Regions from separate parts of the Homo sapiens genome. Here region 1 is linked to region 2. Evidence: fine-mapped expression QTL. Tissue or cell type: lymphoblastoid cells. Region 2 holds a variant in brackets; the other region holds the start of a gene. All regions are shown on one strand. Distances are from middle to middle.

Region 1 (2,911 bases), 20 kb after region 2:
ATAGAAAACTCTAGGCACACATATATCCACATAAGCATTGATGTATATATCCAGTTTCCAATTTTAAAATTTTAAATTGTATATTTGTAGTTATTGTTACAGGGAGATTATCAATGACTAGGGAAGGCCGGGCGCAGTGGCTCATGCCTGTAATCTCAGCACTCTGGGTGGTGGAGGCGGGTGGATTACCTGAGGTCAGGAGTTTGAGACCAGCCTGGCCAACATGGTGAAACCCCGTCTCTACTAAAAATACAAAAATTAGCCAGGCGTGGTGGCGCGGGCCTGTAATCCCACCTACTCGGAAGGCTGAGGCGTGAGAATCGCTTGAACACAGGAGGCAGAGATTGCAGTGAGCGGAGATCGCGCCACTGCACTCCAGCCTGAGCGACAGAGCAAGACTCCCCCTCAAAAACAAACAAAACAAAACAACAACAACAAAAAACAATGACTAGGGAAAGTAGGCCATGAAAAGTGTTGTTTCCAACCTATCAATTGCCAGTACTACAAGCAGGAGTTAGACGTTTGGAGGTTTTCACACGGTGCTATAAATACAGTTTCCAGGGCCCCGGTACACGTGGCCTTCCTGCTCTGCCAGGATGGAGAGTCTTGCTTTCCACATTGCTGATGTGGTCAGACTAATTAAATTATTGCAAAAAGACACATTCCCTAGTCAACCTTATGTGTCTGCCTTCTTCCCTTGAGTCACAGTTGTTGGCTTTACAGGCCAAGGCAAGTAAGTCTTGAACCCTCAGCAGAAACAGGGCACCAGCATCGGATGCCTCATAACCTGAACAGTTAAGGACGCCCCACCACAGAGCTTCTTTCTGAGTGTGATAAACTATAAGGCAAGACTGTAAAGGGGTGGATCTTCATTTCGATTTAGGGTAGGTGACACCTCAAGGGTGTTTCTTCCCTTCCAGCGTAACTGGATGGGAAACCTACACCAAGTGTGCTTGGGAGGGCTGCTTGGGTCAGCTACCTGTAAGTGGAAATAGGGGGTGCCACCTTCCGATGAAAACCCGGATCCCGTACTGTCAACGGAGGGCCCTTGAATTCACATCCCTCAGCCCGCTAGAAAGCCCCTGAAACCACGTGGCCTTTAACCCATTCCGGCAACAGCGCCAATTCCCGGAAGCGAGAGGGCAAGAAAGCTCGGCGCGACGCTTCCCGCGTCTTCTAGGCCGCGCGCTGAAATCAAACGCGACGCCGGCTAGCTGTGGGCCGGGCCGAGCGCTCAACGCTCCAGCGGCTGGGTAAGCCGCGGCCGCCGCCCACCCCGCTGCAGAGCTGGGCGGGGCCGCCTGGAGGCAGCGGGGAGAGGCCAGCCGAAAAGGAAGAAGAGACGCCGGAGGCGCGCTCTGCGCAGGCGCGCGGCGCCCCGCCTCCCCAGCGTCGGCTCCCCGGCGGGCGGTGCGGGCCCTCCCACTCTACCCCGCGCCGTCTCACGGCCCCGGCCCTAGCTTCACCCCGACTACCCGGCGTGCGCGTCCTCCTGCCGGCCTGCAGGCCCGGGGCCTCCGCCTGCTTCCCCACAGCTGCTCCTTGCGGCCCCGCTTGCGTTCACGCTGTCGCCCGGGCCGGCGCGGCCGCGGGCAACCGCTCCCCCTCCCACACCTACCCCGCCCCCTCCCCGCCTTTTCCGCCCTCCGGTCCCCCTCCCTCGGCCCGCTGCTGCTGCTCCAGATGAGGTGATGGCAACGGCCAACTTCGGCAAGATCCAGATCGGGATTTACGTGGAGATCAAGCGCAGCGATGGTGAGCCGCGCTGCCAGCCCCGCTGGCCCGCTCGGCCCCGTGTTCGGGTGTGCACGGAGGGGACGCGGGCGCCGGCCGCCTCATTGATTGCTTCGCCGGGCTGTGGGGGTGGGAAGGCGGCGGCCGCGGCGCTTTTGTGTGTGGCGTGTGTGCCAGTGAGGCCGGCTTGGGGTCCGCCCGGGCGCTGCTGCAGTTCTCCGGATCGGGCCGCGGGGGAGGGAAGCCGGGTGGGGAAAGGGCCCGGGTGTCGAGGGTCGCGTCTCCGGGGGTCTCTGGGCGAGGGCCGCTCGCTCCTCCTCCCGCAATCTCCAGCCCCCCCCCGGGGACACCAGCCCGGGAGGGAGCGGGCTTCGTTAGGGATGACCCTGCCTCGCGCTTCCCCTTGGTCTTTGCATTTTACCGGCTTGGCCTCTGACGGGGATGGGGATGGGGGTGGGGGAGCGGGAAGACCAGCGATTTCACATTTAGAGAACCGACTGCTGGTCGGAGGCCGAGATGGGGGGAAAGAGCCAGTTCCGTCGCCTTAAACTGCCGTCTGGTTGTCAGGCCTCCCCGGTTTCGTCGTCGACCATGCTGCTTTCTTTTTTGCCACTTCTTGGGAGAAAAATGTGGAGAATATCGCGCTGAGCCATGAATAAGGGTGGGGGAGCAATGGGAAGAAATATTCGATGGGCTTCTCCAAGGTGATGAGACTGTAAAGGGAATGATAGGGGATGGGCAGAGTCAATGCGAGGCACTGCTGAGAGAGTGGGGGTGGGCGACCGGATGTTGATATTTTCACACCCTCGGGAGAGGTAACTGAGAAAAGTGTAAGGCGAGGTGAAGACACATGCTTCATTTTTTTTTTTAAGAGCCTTAGGCTTATGTATCTTTCTCTAGGTTTCTCTTGGGGAAAATGGTTTATGACACTAGCTTGGGGTGTGGAGTGAGATACGCCAGCCAGACTGGAAATAATTCATATTGTAAAGGAATAAATGCACGGAGGGAGATAAGTAAAATTATTTTCTTTCGGTACCAATATTGAAAGAACGAGAGATGTGTGATAATCTCGAGTTGAGCAGTGTTCCTGACTCCATCTCTCATACCGATTCCTTTTTTTTTTTTTTTGAGACGGATTTTCACCCAGGCTGGAGTGCAGTGGTGCGATCTCGGCCCA
Region 2 (2,911 bases):
CTTCCTACACTGAATGGGTCTGCCCTATGTAACTATCAGGATATTAAGGAAAAACAGAGTATGACTTCAATGTCTAAGTCATAGAAGATGCTATAGTTTCCACCTTGCTCCTTTGGGTCATTCACTCTAGGGAAAGCCAGATGCCATGTCACGAGAGTCCTCAAGCAACCATATGGAAGTGTCACATGGCATGGAACTGAGGTCTCTTGGAAACAACCTTCATTAACTTACCAGAATTGTGAGTGAGTATAGTTGGAAATGGATCCTCCAGCCTAGTTAATCCTTTAGATGACTGCAGCTCCAGCTGACATCTGAACTGCAACTTCATTTGAGACACCCCCTTCAAGACAGAACCATCCAGCTAAGCTGTTCCTAAATTCATTTTGCACAAAAACTGTGTAATATAACAAATGTTTATTGTTGTTTAAAGCTGCTAAGTTTGGGCATAATTTATTACACAAGAACAGGTAATTAATATCATAGCCCTTTGGAACTAATTTTTCCAAGAATGGGCAAATAACCTGTTAGGGCAATGAGTAATTTCCCCCAAATTTTTTGATGGGCTATCACAGAGAACATAAAGATAGTTTCTTTGATAGCTACACATATAAGATGTCAAACTTCGATGCTTCCTGTGACCATGTTTCCACCAGGTGGAGAAAGCCAGTCTAAAGTGAAAGAGAATGAAGTTGACACAGAGAGAAACAGAATGGCAGAGAGAAAGCCATTAGGGTGTTGGGGTCCTTCATTCTAACTATTCCTGAGACTCTGCTGGATCTTGCTTTTTCTTTGGGTATTTGACCCTTCTTCAGAGTCCTCCATCCAGATGCCATTGCCTCAAGGCCTTTGTATGTCCTGGTCATCTCTCCTTTTTTTCTCTTGGCCCAATCCTTCACTTTAGTTGGTGTGCAAATGTCATCTCACTGGCTGCACACAGTGGTTCACACCTGTAATCCCAGCACTTTCAGAGGCTGAGGCAGGAAGATCACTTAAGCCCTAGAAGTCTAGGCAGTAATGAGCTGTGACCATGCCACTGAACTCCAGCCTACGTGACAGAGACTCTGTCTCAAAAAAGAAAAAAAAAAAGTCATATCACCAATGAGATCTGACCACCCTGCCTAAAATAGATTATCCAGTGTGTGGTAGTTTTGTAATGTGTCAACCTGC[G/A]TAGGTGGAACATTTCCTAGAATTCATTTTCTGGTATGCTTCTAGTTAGAGTGGGTCACAAGGAAGATTCTTGAGAAATTTGGAGGGTGGTAGGGAAACGGTGGCCATTTTGTAGCTCACACCTACATTATTGCTGATCTGCTGACTCACTTCATTGGTGTGAAGCAGTAGCAGGGCTTGTGCCTGCAGTTGCTCTAACTTCCCCTGGATTTTCCCTCAGCTCCTCCCACCCCCGCCAGGTCGCTGGGCTGAGGAGCCCTCACTTTTACAGGATATCCTCATCACAAAGGCCAGAGGCAATAAGAATAAACATGGGTTTCCATCTGTCCTTGTCCACTTGTCCTTTCACATATATGAAATTCTAATAAGATTTTGAAAGATAAATAGGTTTTCATCAGATGGAAGAGAATTGGGTGAGAAAAATGCATCAAGCTAAGAAACAAGCAGATTAAAAGACAAAGAAGTGTGAAATGATTCATGAGGAAACATGTTTTTCCTAGAACACAAATTGCAGAGGTAGTGGTAAGATGAAAAATTAAAGAGGTAATATAAACCAAATGCTGAAATGTGTTATATACCCTAAAAAGGAGTTTCAACTTAATCTTATGAGTAAACATTTACAAAAATTTTTTGTGCATAATAATTCCTTTCTAGAAATAAAAGTTAAAAATGCATCTCCAGAGACTCTGATTCATTAAATCTGTGATATGGCCTAGAAAACTGTATTTTTAATATGTCATCCAAATGATTCTGGTCAAAGGCAATCTAAGATCACACTTTGATAAACATCATAGAACAATGGGGAGCCCCTGGAGAGTTTTAAGCAGGAGTGTCACCTGATAAGATCTGAATTTCCAAAAGATAACTTTAGATGCAGTTTAACAAAATGGATTTCAGGAAGGTAAATCTGGATATAGAGAGATATATTAGGAGATTTTTTTTTGGTGTAATAATCCAAATGAGAAGTAATGGCAGCCTTAATTAAGGCAGTAGAAATAGCAAGAAGATTATGGAGAGAAGTAATATTTAGGAAGGGTGAAGGGAGGAGGAGAATCCAAGATGAATCCCCAAATTTTTATTTGAGTAATTAGATAAATTATAAAATAGAAAATGTAGACAGAAACACAGATTCTGAGGTTGGAATGTATTTTTTAAGTGATGAGTTCAGTATGATGGATTTTAAGTTCAATATGCCTGTATGCTATTTCAGGCAAGATGCATAGTAGACACACATACGTTACATATGGATTGTTACTCAGGAACATTTTTTCTCTACATTTGATATTTTCATGCTGTGAGACCTCTGTTAGAGCAACACTTCAGTTCTCCTTTTTCCTCCTCATTCACTACTTTCCACAGAGGACAGAGGCAACTGGTAGGTGAATTTGGAGGAAATGATCGAGGCATGTGTGGCTTGACCCATTTTTTCTCCTTCCTTTGAGATCTGCCTACTTGTAGATTCAGTTGTGAGTATGGGCACGTATGTGCAGAAAATAAAATATTGAAAGAGCCTGGAGGACAGGAGACAAACCAGAAGGTATAAGGCTGTGCAGGCAGCTGCCATCTAACAGAAGTGATATCCTTTCAGAGAGGGTGTCAGGAATGGAGGCTGGACAAGGTCCTTAGCAGAGGGAAGTAGGTGTGGGGGCAGGGTGACTCTGAGAAGTATCCAGAGGAAACCTAACTCACCATCTTGGCCAAATTCAACCACAGAGGACAGGACCGGACAGAGTCAGAGGGAGAC

Direction of the effects. Positions count from the first base shown, and alleles are read on the strand shown. Sizes are in standard deviations (SD) of each study's normalised expression.
For the expression in lymphoblastoid cells of the gene that starts at base 1,425 in region 1, allele G in region 2 goes with a higher level than allele A (moderate effect, 0.74 SD a copy in GTEx).

Evidence for each region. PIP is the estimated chance that this variant, and not a neighbour inherited with it, causes the effect.
Region 1: it holds the start of KIF2A, and the variant in region 2 is fine-mapped to the expression of KIF2A in lymphoblastoid cells (GTEx, PIP 0.98).

Annotation. Positions count from the first base shown.
Region 1 is chr5:62,304,782-62,307,692 of GRCh38, forward strand. KIF2A (kinesin family member 2A) reads left to right here and starts at 1,425. Exons shown (of 21, transcript NM_001098511.3): 1 at 1,425-1,755. The coding sequence starts at 1,692. RefSeq lists a silencer at 1,129-2,158.
Region 2 is chr5:62,284,437-62,287,347 of GRCh38, forward strand. No RefSeq gene overlaps it. Among named protein-coding and RNA genes, the nearest start is that of KIF2A, 20 kb to the right of the region's middle. RefSeq lists enhancers at 821-920, 1,031-1,310. The variant G/A (reference allele first, on the strand shown) is at 1,168.